3 separate regions of the Homo sapiens genome follow, and all the other regions are linked to region 2. Evidence: fine-mapped expression QTL. A gene starts in region 2. Each other region holds a variant in brackets. All regions are shown on one strand. Distances are from middle to middle.

What was found. PIP is the estimated chance that this variant, and not a neighbour inherited with it, causes the effect.
Region 1: its variant is the best candidate, but not a certain one, in a credible set for the expression of LINC01659 in sun-exposed skin (GTEx, PIP 0.65).
Region 3: its variant is the best candidate, but not a certain one, in a credible set for the expression of LINC01659 in ileum (GTEx, PIP 0.54).

What each region holds. Positions count from the first base shown.
Region 1 is chr22:23,452,919-23,457,092 of GRCh38, reverse strand. No RefSeq gene overlaps it. Among named protein-coding and RNA genes, the nearest start is that of LINC01659, 21 kb to the right of the region's middle. The variant C/T (reference allele first, on the strand shown) is at 2,530.
Region 2 is chr22:23,431,215-23,435,388 of GRCh38, reverse strand. LINC01659 (long intergenic non-protein coding RNA 1659) reads right to left here and starts at 1,825. Exons shown (of 3, transcript NR_110538.1): 1 at 1,328-1,825; 2 at 659-829; 3 at 318-565. RefSeq lists an enhancer at 3,304-4,149.
Region 3 is chr22:23,519,070-23,523,243 of GRCh38, reverse strand. No RefSeq gene overlaps it. Among named protein-coding and RNA genes, the nearest start is that of LINC02557, 7.8 kb to the right of the region's middle. RefSeq lists enhancers at 1-190, 191-757 and a silencer at 1,103-1,462. The variant G/A (reference allele first, on the strand shown) is at 2,578.

The DNA of each region.
Region 1 (4,174 bases), 22 kb before region 2:
AGAGAGGGCCTGCCCTGGAGGGCCGGGGACCTCTGCAGCACGTCCGTGGAACACGTGGGCCAGGGAGTGTGTGCCCGGCCCCCATTCCAGCTCTGCCACGTGAGCAGTGCTCACACGGTGCCTAGGGCTGAGGGGTCTTACTAAGCGCTGGTCCCACCATCCCGAGCCGAGCCCCATGGTGTCCCAGCGGGCACGGACAAGAGGCACGGAGTGAGGGAGGGGTGGAGGCTGACAAAGTGCTTGGAGAGCAGAGACAGCGCCTCTCTCCACACACCACCAACTGCAGGATGTGGTGGGGCTCGGAGGCCAAGGGGGAAGTGTGAGGGATTCCTGTCAAGAACAAGACCCCCTGCTGCTGAGGGTCCAAGAGAAACTCCATGAACGGGGAAACTCAAGGGGAGGAAGCTAGAGATGGAATGAAGGAAGCCCTGAATCCTGGCTCAAACAAGCAAAGCTGAAATAATGCAGTAAAATGAGAAGACACGCAGGAAATGGAAACGATGCTACTTCGAGATACTGGGAAGTTATGTGAATGCTGTTCATCTGTGGGGTGGTGTGAAGAGGTGGAGGCCACACCAGTGGACATCAAAACCAGAAACCAGTCAGAGAAGGACAACAGGAAAACTGTAAGTGCCTGGAAATCAAACAGCACACTTCTAAGTAATCCACGAGTCAAATGGGATGCCTCGAAGGAAATAAAAAAGAGAACAGAATGGAAACAAGAATACAGCATAATGAAATTTGCCAGACGCACCCAAGGCAGTGCTTAGAGGGAAACAGACAGCACTCAATGCCAGTATCAGGAAAGGAGAAAGATCTCAAATTGCTTCTCTAAATTCCTACTTCAAGAAACGCAGGGAGAAACAAGCCCGAAGCAGGAGGAGGAAATAATAAAAGTAGGAATGAATAGGAAAACAAAAGACAGTTATTAAAACCAAAAACTGGTTCTTTAAAAAATAGCAATAAGGCCGGCCAGGAGCAGGGGCTCACACCTGTAATCTTTGCACTTTGGGAGGCCAAGGTGAGAGGATCACTTGAGCCCTGGAGTTTGAGACCAGCCTGGACAACACAGTGAGACCCCATCTCTATAATCAATCAGCCAGGTGTGGTGGCATATACCTGTAGCCCCAGGTATGTGGGATCACGTGGGCCTAGGAGTTTGAGGCTGTAGTGAGCTATGATCACACCACTGCACTCCAGCCTGGGCAACAGAGTGAAACCCTGTCTCAAAAATTTGTTAAAAAGACCAGCAACAATAAATTGATAAACCCCTCGCAAAACTGACAAAGATTAAAAAGGGGGAACGCCTGTAATCCCAGCACTTTGGGAGGCCAAGGCAGGGCATCACGAGGTCAGGAGATCGAGACCATCCTGGCTAACACAGTGAAACCCCATCTCTACTAAAAATACAAAAAATTAGCTGGGTGTGGTGGTGGGTGCCTGTAGTCCCAGCTCCTTGGGAGGCTGAGGCAGGAGAATGGCATGAACCCAGGAGGCAGAGCTTGCAGTGAGCCGAGATCATGCCACTGTACTCCAGCCTGAGCAACACAGCAAGACTTCATCTCAAAAAAAAGAAAGGGGGGAGAGTGAAATGACCAATATCAGAAATGAAATGGAAATATTATAATAGATCCAGAAGCTATTAAAATAACAATAAAAAATACTACAACAAAACTTGATGCTCATAACGAACTGGACGGATTCGTCGAAAACCACATACTACCAAAACGTGCCAAGATAAAATAGCCTCGGTAGTCCTATAACCATTAAATAAATCGAGTTTGTTGTAATTAAAATGCTACTCAAAATCTCCAGTCCCAGATGGTTTCACTAGAAAGTTTTACCGAACATTAAATATGAATTAATACCAATTTTACACAATCCTTTTTCAGTTAACAAAAGACAGGGAAACACCTTTCCACTATTAACCTTGTACTGAAACCAACAAGGATGGTGCGCACACACAGAAAAATAAGTATCAGTCTCTCATGAACTTAGATGCAAAAATACTCAACAAGTACTAACAAATGGAATCCAGCAATCTACGAAAAAGAGTATCACACCCTGACCAAGTGGGATTCAGTTTAGGTGTACAACGAAGGCTAGTTCAAATTTGAAAATCAATCAATGTTATTCACCCTATCAACAGGCTAAAGGAAAACAATGATATGATCCTATTGACACAGGCAAAGCATTTGACAAAATTTAATCTCCATTCCTGACAAGAACTCTTGCAAAGCAGGAATCAAGGGAAAGTCCTCCGACTTGGTAAAAAGCACCATGAAGAACCCTCAGCTCACGCTGCTTCACGGAGGAGTCTGGCCGCCTTCCCTCATTCGGTCAGCGGAGAGCTGGCTTTCCCCACTCATCCTCAACCCAGCATGGGAGCTCCTCACGCCAGGGCATGCAGGTAAGAAAAGGAAAGCAGCAGCATAGGGATTGGAAAAGAACAGAACTGTCCCTACTCGCAAATGACATGATGGCCCACGTGGAAAACCCTAAGCAATCTGCAGAAAACTCCTAGAATGA[C/T]GTGACGGCCCACGTGGAAAACCCTAAGCAATCTGCAGAAAACTCCTAGAATGACGTGACAGCCCATGTAGAAAATCCTGAGCAATCTGCAGAAAACTCCTCGAACACTAAGTGAGTTCACGAAGGTTGCAGGAAATAAGATGAACATACAAAAATTAACCACATTTCTATAAAGCAATGGCAAACAAGTGAAAAACAAAATTAAAAGGCAATATAATTTACAGAACATCTTAAATACTTGGGTATAAATCTAACAAAAACTTGTATAGTGTCTGTTTGCAGAAAGTTAGGAAATACTGATGAAAGGAATCAAAAGAATGTTTGTATAAATAGATACAATGTTTATGAACTGGAAGACTTATAGTAAATCAATTTTTCCAAAATTGATCTTTGGTTTTAAGGTAATTGCTGTCTAAACCTCAGCATATATATATATATATATATATATATATATATTTTTTTTTTTTTTTTTTTTTTTTTTTTTTGGAAAGAGGGTCTTATTCTGTCACCCAGGCTGGAGTGCAGTGGTGTGGTCTTGGCTCACTGCAGCCTCAAGCAATCTTCCTGCCTCAACGTGCCAAGTAGCTGTAACTACAGGTGCGCACCACCACTCATGGCTGTGTTTTTTTCATAGAGATGGGGTCTCCCTGTGTTGCCCAGGCTGGTCTCCAACTCCTGGGCTCAAGCGATCCTTTTGCCTTGGCTTCCCCAAGTGTTGGGATTACCGGTGTGAGCCACCATGCCTGGCCAGCATCTTTTTTTTTTTTTTTTTTTTGGTAGAGAGACACAAGATTATTCTAAAATGTATATGGAAAGCCATTCCAAAAAAGAAGAGTAGGGGAATTGCCCTTCCTGATGTTGAGAACTGTACAGCTACAGCACAGCGTTATACAGCTCCTACATCAGACAGACATGGCTGGGGCAGCGCTGGAGGGGAGATGTGGAGACCAGCGGAACAGAACAGAGGAACTCGAAAGAGACCCACAGACGTGTCCAGGCCACTTTCTAACAGAGAATATTATGCCGTGACCAAGTGGGACTTAGTTTAGGTGTACGAGGCTAGCTTGGTATTTGAAAATCAATCAATGTAATCTGCTATATCAACAGGCTAAAGAATAAACAACATATGATCCTATTAATCGATACAGAAAAGTCACAAAAAAGTCACAAAGGTGCTTCAGTGGAGGAGGGGCAGTCTTGTCTTTGCTACAGCTGGAGCCGGAGCAGCTGGACACACTTAGTTAAAAAAAAATTTTTTTTTGACCGAAACCTCACATCTCATATAAAATTTAACTCAAACTGTATCATGAACTTACATGTAAAACACAGAATTATTTTAAAAAAGAAATCTTCAGGATCTGGATGAGGCAGAGCTCTGACACTCAACACCAAAGCACAATCCATAGAATAAAATTAAAATGGATAAATGGGCCTCGCCAAAATTTTAGGAAATTGCACAGTGGAAGAGCCTGTGAAGCAGACACAAGGACAAGCTACACAACAGGGCGCCAGCGTCTCCCTGCCCATCTCTCCTAGAACGCCACGGCCACAGAGGACCCCAGCACCTGGAGGGGCCAGTGCACAGAACCCGGAGGGGGGTGACTGCAGCGTCTTAACCCCAAGTGGGATTCCTGCCCGTGCCCTG
Region 2 (4,174 bases):
AGGTGGTCCCCGTGTGTTTGCAGCCTGGATGTGATGCCCACATCTCTGGGCCAGGCACAGCTCTCCACTGTCGGCGGCTGGTGGGATTAGATGTGACCAAGGCCGCTCCCGGGCCGGCTCTACTCTGTGGGGGGCAGGTGCGGCTCTGGGGGTCCTGTTGGGCCTGAGCACGTCCCGATAACCTGGCTGCTGCCCACTGCCCAAGCGCCAGAGCACTCGGCCACCAATGAGAGCTGTGCTTCCCTGGTCCTGGGTTAAAAATATCCCCGTAAGTGACAAGACTTTGAGAATTTCGTCTCTCCAGTCACTCACATGGGGGGCGAGGACAGCTCTTGGCTCCGCGTCTCGCCCGGCTGCATCTGATGGCTCCCTGGGCTGAAGCTGCATCTCATGAAACAGACGAGAAGTCATTCACAGCCCGACAGCACAGGCACAGAAATTTGCTGTTTTATACCAAGTTGGGCGGCCTGTCATCTAGAAGCTTCTGTCCTGACCTCCTCAGCGAAGAGGAAGTCATGGAACCAGCTGCTGAGCCTCCTGACCTCGGCCTGGCCTCTCCTGGCAGCTGTGGGCCCCAGGATGAAAGCGGGCACCACGTCACTCACGAGACAGAAGCTGTCGTTCTCAGAGCCTCCCAGGTGAGTGGCCGGGCGCCTACCTGAAGCTGGACGAGCCCACAGTGGCTGAGGCCAGTGGGGACCCAAGGGGCCGGTCCGGCCTTCCCGGACCACCAAGGAAGGTGGGCGCTGCTTCCCTCGCAGTGCAGATGGTCTCGGCCGTCACTCTGCTGTCCCTCTCCTGGCTGTGAGCTCAGCTTCAGTGTCCCCACCTGTGAAATGGGGAGACCCCCAATCCTTCTGGGCGGGTGCCTTGCCTCTGCCCTCGCATGAGTCTCCCCTTTCTGAGCTGGGATTCCATCTCTCCTGGGAATCAGGTGCTGCCTGGCTGAGAACCCGGTAGCCAGGCACAATCACGCCGTCACCACCCCAGCCCTCAACCAGACCCTGCCTGCTCGCCGCGCTCGGCCGCCATCTTCCTGTGGACGCCACTTACCCTCCGGCGTCGCCATCGGCTGCAAATTGCCTTGTTTTTCATCTTTGGCAGGGCTCAAAATTTGATCATGAAAGGGAATTTTCTTTTTTCTTTCTTAATTAGTACTTGGTAATATCACCAAGCTGTGAGTTTATGGCTTTGTAGATCTTGTGTGTTTGACACTAATTACTCACAAAGGCTTTTAAAGCTGCATTTCAACTCTGCAACCACCATGCCAGTAATTAAGCTAGAGGAAGCGGCAACAGATTTCATTTTTCACAGACACCCTTCCCACCTGTGCTCCCGCTCCGTGTGGCCGCAGCCCCCGTGGCCCTGTGGAAACCCAGCAGCTCCTTGCGGCTCCGGCCCTGGAGGCCTGAGGTGGCCTTGCCTCCAGGAGCCCGGGCTCAGCCGTCACAGCCGGGCAGGTACAATCAGGACGAGCTCCCTGTGAGACTGGGGACCCAGGCCCAGTCCCAACCCAGGTGAAGGTCCCTTCCTTCTGCCCCAGAGACGACTAACGAGCAGCTCCCCTGGCTGCCCCAGAGCCCCCCACAGGGGCCGTGGCTTCTGACCCTTCAGACTCAGCTGTTCCCAGGGGCCCTGCTTCTGCCCCGCCCGCCCCCACGGCTGCACTCAAGCCTGCGCTGTGCACACCGAGGCCAGCTGAGTACCGGATAGGACCTGGGCTGAGGCTGCCCAGCTCACAGGGAAGCAGAAGCCGAGAGACCAAGAAGAAAACATCCCCCAACTGGCTGACAGTCGCCCTCCTCGACCCCAGATGCCACTAAGAACAACGCAAAGTTCTGGCGCGCAGGGAGGGAAGTCCGTGTTGACTTGGGGGCGGGTCTGCAGCAGGAAGGCTGGGCACACCCTCCACTGGCTGCTCACTAACTCCCCTGCTGGCAGAACCTTCCGCTGCACAAGCAGAGGAGAAAGGAAGGCGTGGAAGAGAGCAGGTGGCCCACGGGCTGGGAGGGGCAGGGAGAGGAAAGGCGGCAAGGTTCCCAGCAAAAGAGAAGACGCCACTCCGAGAACCCCGGGAGGTATAAGGGAACCCTGTTTAGTAACGCTGCATGTGCAACAGATAACACGTAGTTCACGTGCACAGATGTGTGCAAACATCTATGATGTAACCGAGCGGGGCTGTGCAGAGCAACTGTTACAGTCTGAACTGTGTCCCCCAAATTTAGATACTAACCTAATCCCCATGTGACTGTATTTGGAAATAGGACCTTTAAGGAGGGAAGTCAAGTCTGATGAAGGTCATAAGGGTGGGTCCTGATCCAGCAGGGGCACCAGAGCTCTCCAAGTGCACAGGAGAAAGGCCACACAGGAATACAAGGGGCGGCCGTCCACAAGCCGGGAGGAGAGTCCTCCCCAGGGGCCAACTCCGGTGACCCTTGATCTCAGATTTCAGCCTCCAGAACTGTGTGAGACACACATCTGCGGTCTCAGCCCCCGCTGTGGGGCTCTGTGACGGCAGCCCCAGCCAGACCAGCAGAGTGGTGGACACGGCCAGGTCTTATTTTGGTGAACTAGCCCCTTGGCTCCACAGATCTCTGTAACGTGCTTATGTGGGAGGATGGTAGGGGCACGGCAGCCCCACCTAGGAAGCAAGGTCTCCACAACCATGGGTCATGTTAAACCAGCTCCTTCTCTGGAGGCTAAGGGCCTCACGTGGTCAACTGCAGCCCAAGGTCCTGAGCCCCCTGTCTGGTCCAACACCAGGTGCTTTGTCTCTCTTCTCCTTCGCACAGGTGGTCACCCTGCTGGACGCTGCCCCTTTCCCCACTGTCCTCACCCACCGAGACCAGGTCCTACCACAATAAAAGGACTCTGGTTAGGGCTTTATGGAGTCACCAGCCTTTCAGAGACACATGCTACAATACTTGAATGATTGCAGCTAAATTGATTACGATACCTTGGATTTGCTTCAGAATAATCCAGGAAGGGGGAAGAGGGTGGGATGGGCTCACAGGGACTTCTCGATGCTGTTTTCCATATTTTTATATATATGCTTAAAACTTTCCATGGCAAAAAGTGAAAATAAACACAAACAGAAACCAAACCAAAAGCTAAAAGATGACAACTCATCCTAACCAGGCCAGGGTGACCTCCTCTCAAAACCCAGGCTCTGGAAGGACATCTCGCTCTTACCCCCAGAAGGTGACATCCTTGGCCCCAGAGCCCCTGCCAGGGCTGCCCGGTCTTTACCCCTCTGCCCAAGGCCACACGCACAGGATGTCAACAGTATTTGTAGAATTAGCGAGGCAGCATGGGAAGGTGCGGTTCCATCTCCAGGCCCCCCGCCCTGGTCCTCCTCCCACTGGGTCTTAACTCCCCGAGGGGCCACAACGCTTCAATGCGTGAGGTGCCGTGTGCCTCTCCACCCAGGAAAGTGTGCACAAGCACACTCCGTGCTGCCTATAATTCTGGGAACGACAGGGGTCTATGAAGCCCACCCAAGTTCCTGGAATACAGACCCCTGCCCTGAGCTCGCAGCGGAACCCCCATGCTGCTGCTCCTCCTCACATGTGGATCTGGGACGTCATGCTGGGCAACTGAGACCAGGTCTGCCTTCATGTTGTAAACAACTAGAAAAATGAACAAAATACACACAGTAACTGTTCACAGACACTGGGCTGTCTAAAGACAGAGAAACAAATGAAGTGAACCTCTGAACACCCCTTGCTCTACCCAGTGGTCTCTTCCAGGCTTGGCGCCGTGGGGTACAGCTCAAGCTCAGCATGATGGTCCTGCTGAGAGGAAGGGAGGATCTGTGGAGGGCGGAGCTGTGCACAGAAGGCTTCTGGCAACCTGGAGAAAGGTCTCGCTGAGCTGCTGAGTAATACACTCTACGCACACAGCATGCAACTCCACAAGGCTGAACCAAGCACATCGGGGAGCTGTCAGGGAACAACTCCAGAGGTCACGCAGGACCGGGGACAGGCACATGCCGACCAGCCAGAGCAAGTGTTCTTGCTGAGCACCCAGGTCATCTGCTAGGAACCTCAGAAGGGTCATGTCTTAGTAGCAGAGTTAAACTAGCCCTGGAATAAAAGCAAATCCATACAAGCCCCAAGAGAGTGTGAAAACAGTTCTTGAAAGGATCAAGCTGACCCCAAAATAACTTAACTGC
Region 3 (4,174 bases), 88 kb before region 2:
ATGAGATTAACATCCCAGCAGGGGCTTGAGGGTGGGGGGCGTCCTTCAGGCCCATCTGATCCCAGTGGAGACCTCCCCACAAGCCCCCGAATCCTGGGACACTGAAAGCCAGGCGCCTTTGAGGGTGGAGGGAGGCCACCCGCCTCCCCACCTGGCCAGAAATCACACGCCCCGCAGCCTGCCCTGGCTTGGTTCAGCAGGGCCCAGAATGTCCTGGTCTTTATCTGGTTCAGTTTTAAGTGCTTCCAACGGCAGCGAAGCTGTTCCACCACGGTCCCCAGGAAATTGGTCCATGTAGGACCGAGCCTTCCCGAGAATGAAGTCATCTGTGCCGTTTTTATTTTTTGTTGCCTTTCTCCTACAACGGGAGAGTCACTGGTCCTCTGCAGGTCCCTCCCCGCGGCAACGCACCCAGCCGCGGGGCCCGGCCGGGCTGGTGGGGGAAGGGGCGAGGAGCAGGGCCCCGGGGTGCACGGTCGCCCGACGCCCCCTGCCCGCGCCCCAGCCCGGCCCCCGCCCTCCGCGGCCTGAAGGTGAGCTCCCGGGGGAGACCCCCGCGCCCGGCACAGCCTGCTGGGCAAACAGTAACAGTAAATAACGCTCCCTTGTCAACGTAATAGAAACAGAAACGGTTACAATGTTTCTTTTTCTTTTTTTTGTTTTTTGTTTTTTCTTTTTTTTTTTTGAGATGGAGTCTCACTCTGTCGCCCAGGCTGGAGTGCAGTGGCGCGATCTCGGCTCACTGCAAGCTCTGCCTCCAGGGTTCACACCATTCTCCTGCCTCAGCCTCCCGAGTAGCTGGGACTACAGGCGCCCGCCACCATGCCCGGCTAATTTTTGTATTTTTAGTAGAGGCCGGGTTTCACTGTGTTAGCCAGGATGGTCTGGATTTCCTGACCTTGTAATCCACCCGCCTCGGCCTCCCAGAGTGCTGGGATGACAGGCGTGAGCCACCGCGCCCGGCGGTTACAATGTTTTTTAATAAGCACACCCCATCAATCTCCCTCCCGGGCCCTGGGCACCGGGGAGGAGGGGTAAGGGTGGGGGGCACCGGGGCTCGCTGCTTGGGGGGCCCAGGATACAGGCGGAGGACGCCCGGGAAAAGAGGGGAAAACACAGCAAGTGAGAGACGAGGGGGCTCGAGCGGCCAGGGTCAGGCGAGCTAGCGGAGCCGGAAAGCGGCCGCAGAGAGTAACATCGTTGCCATAGCGACGTGCCCGCGAGGAACAGCGGCCAAGGCGCCCGCACCGCCCGGCCCCTCCCACCAGCCCGTTGCCACGGAGACCGGGCCGGAGTGGCGCCGCGCTGTCTGCCGCGGCCTCCGGCGCCCCGACCTGCGCATTCGCAGCGGGACCTTGGGGGGCGCCGTGGGAGTGCCCTGGCGCCGCGCCGCGCCGGGGCCATCCGGACCCCTAGGCCTATTCCCGCCGCCTGCTCGGGTGGTGGTGGGGGGAGGGAAAAGACAAACTGTTCTTTGTTTGCCTTTGGAAAGCCGGCCTGCCTTTGTTCCGGGCGGGTTCGTTGGTTTCCAGGCGTTGAAGGCTGGGAGAGGAGGGGGTAGGGATCCCGGCCCAGCGGTCCCAGACGTTTTCGGAACTACAGACCCTGGGCTCAGCGCGGGGTCGCCGAGGGGACGCGGGCCACCAGCCCTATCCTCCGGAGCTCAGGCGCAGTCCAGGCTTCCCAGGCCCCGGGGCTGCCCTCCCGGAGCCTGACCTCCCCTGGGGGTGGGGGTGCTGCCCTGGGGCCCCCTTCCTGGGTTTCCTGGTCCTTCTGTCCACGTATCTCACTCCCCCATTGAACCGGCAAAGAGCACAAAGCAGAAAAGACATCCTTGCCGCCCCAGGCTCCCCCATCTAGCAGAAAACTCTGAAACAGTCCTCACCCCTCCCAAAGTTGAGAGAAACGTGGATGTTCCATAAACAAAACCCGCCCTCCAGCAGCATGTTTAAGTGGAGGCGACCTCGCGTGGGTGTGCGTGTGTGTATGTGTGCGTGTCTGCGTGCGCCGGGGACGCGCGATCATCTCTCAGGCTGTTTGTGGATAATTTTTTTCTCTAGATTTTGTTTGTTTTTAATAAGGATCAGAGGTCTGGGCTGTGGGGAAGGGGCAAGGGTCATCTCGGATGGCCAGGCCGGGAGGTACCAGGGGGACAGGTCTCCGGGCCTGGCCTGCCGAGCGAGGCGGGATCCGGAGCCGCCCCATCTGGCCCTACTCCCGGCAGTGGCTGGTGGGAGTCAGTGGGGACCGGCTCCGTGGGCTGCTCCTGGGGTATGGCCCCAGAGAGGAGCCAAGCCAAAGAATACGATTTCTCTCCCCTGCACAGGGCAGCTGTCATTTCCCCGGCCCCTGTCCTGGCCATAAGGGCCAAGAGAGAAGGCAAGCAGAGTGGCTCGGGTCTCTGGGGCTTTCTACACTGGAAAGGGAGGTTTTTGTTTTTTTGTACAAGGCAGACTTCAACTTTCAGCGAGCAGGCTGACCAGATGGGAATGTAGGGAGGGTGTGCGGGGAAAGGGGACCCCCCTGCTTCAAACTACCTCCCTGCCATCATTGCCTACCAGCCTGGGCCCCCACTGC[G/A]GCCCTGTGCTGGCTGAAGGGAGGGAGGGGCTGGGGCTGATGTTTCTTCTTTCCTACTCCCTCCTTCTTTCTAGATGTGAGAAAGGAACCCCGCCCTGTAGGGGAAGCTTGTCTGGTGTCCAGAAGACTTAGGGTCCATGGGCCGGGTGTGGTGGCTCAAGCCTGTAATCCCAGCACTTTGGGAGGCCGAGGAGGGCAGATCACGAGGTCAGGATATCGAGACCATCCTGGCTAACACGGTGAAACCCCGTCTCTACTAAAAAATACGAAAACTTAGCCGGGTTGCGGGGTGGCGGGCACCTATAGTCCCAGCTACTCGGGAGGCTGAGGCAGGAGAATCGCTTGAACCTGGGAGGCGGAGGTTGCAGTGAGCCGAGATCACGCCATTGCACTCCAACCTCGGCAACAAGAGTGAAACTCCAACCTCGGCAACAAGAGTGAAACTCCATCTCAAAAAAAAGAAAGACTTAGGGTCCACAGTGGCAGTCTGGGTGTTGTATTGCCATCTCTCCTTGAAGGAGAAGATGAACACTTGGTGGGAGGGCGCCTGGGAGCTGTTGCTGCAGTGTAGAGAAGCCCCATCTTGGCCCAGCGGGCAGCAGCCTGTGCTGAGAATGGGGACTCCAGGACCAGAGAGGCCTGGCAGTGGATCCTGGCTCTGCCAAAACCACTGCTTGTGCATCTGGACGACGGGGACAGCGCAGTGCCCCTGTCACAGATGGTGATGGCTCCTGGCGGTGGTGCACAGAAGCTCGTGGCATGGCATCTGGTGCACAGTAGGTGCTAGAACATGGAATCTGTCATTGGAGCTGGTGTGACCCAAGATGGCCACCTTGGGTCTCTGACACTCCGGGGCTGGCTGTGTCCCAGGACAGGTTCATCTTTGGTCAAGCCTCCAGGAAAAGAGCACTGGACTGGGGTCAGGAGAAGCAGAGGCCATGGGTTCTGTCACCAACCAACTGTGTAATCCGACACAAGTCCCTGAGCTGCTTTGAGCCTCAGTCTTCCCATCTTGCAAATGGGGATAATAATCACAACCACCACTGACTGTGAACTTACTCAGTGCCAGGCACTCCACCGAGGCCTGTACATTGCCTTATCTAATTCGACCCTCAAAGCAACCAAGTGAGGTAAAGACTAGATCCCAGTTTCACAGATGAAGGGACAGAGCCTCAGAGAAGTGAAGCCACATGCTGGGGACACACAGCTGGAAGGTGGTGCAGTCTCCATCACACACCCCTGAGAGCGAGTGTCCAGCTGCTGCTCCTGTCTCTGTTGTTCCCCCGCTCTTCCTGCTCACCTCCTGTACTTTTTGGTGGCTCAGGCCACAGCCCTCCCTTTGTATTTGAACCCTTGGATCCAGCCATTGTGGAATCTTCTGAGTCTGGTGGAGATCCAGCCCCCTCAGTGGGAGACATCCTCAGGGGTAGATGGGGGCTTCAGGAAAGCCAGGTGGGCCCCACATGGTCCCCACAGTCAACCCGGCAGCCCCCAGCCGATCTGCCATCCACTGAGTCTCCCCCTGCCGTTTACACCGAAGGGTTGGGGTTCCTAACCCACCCAGGTGGACGCGTGGCCTCCAGATGGTGCAGTTAAT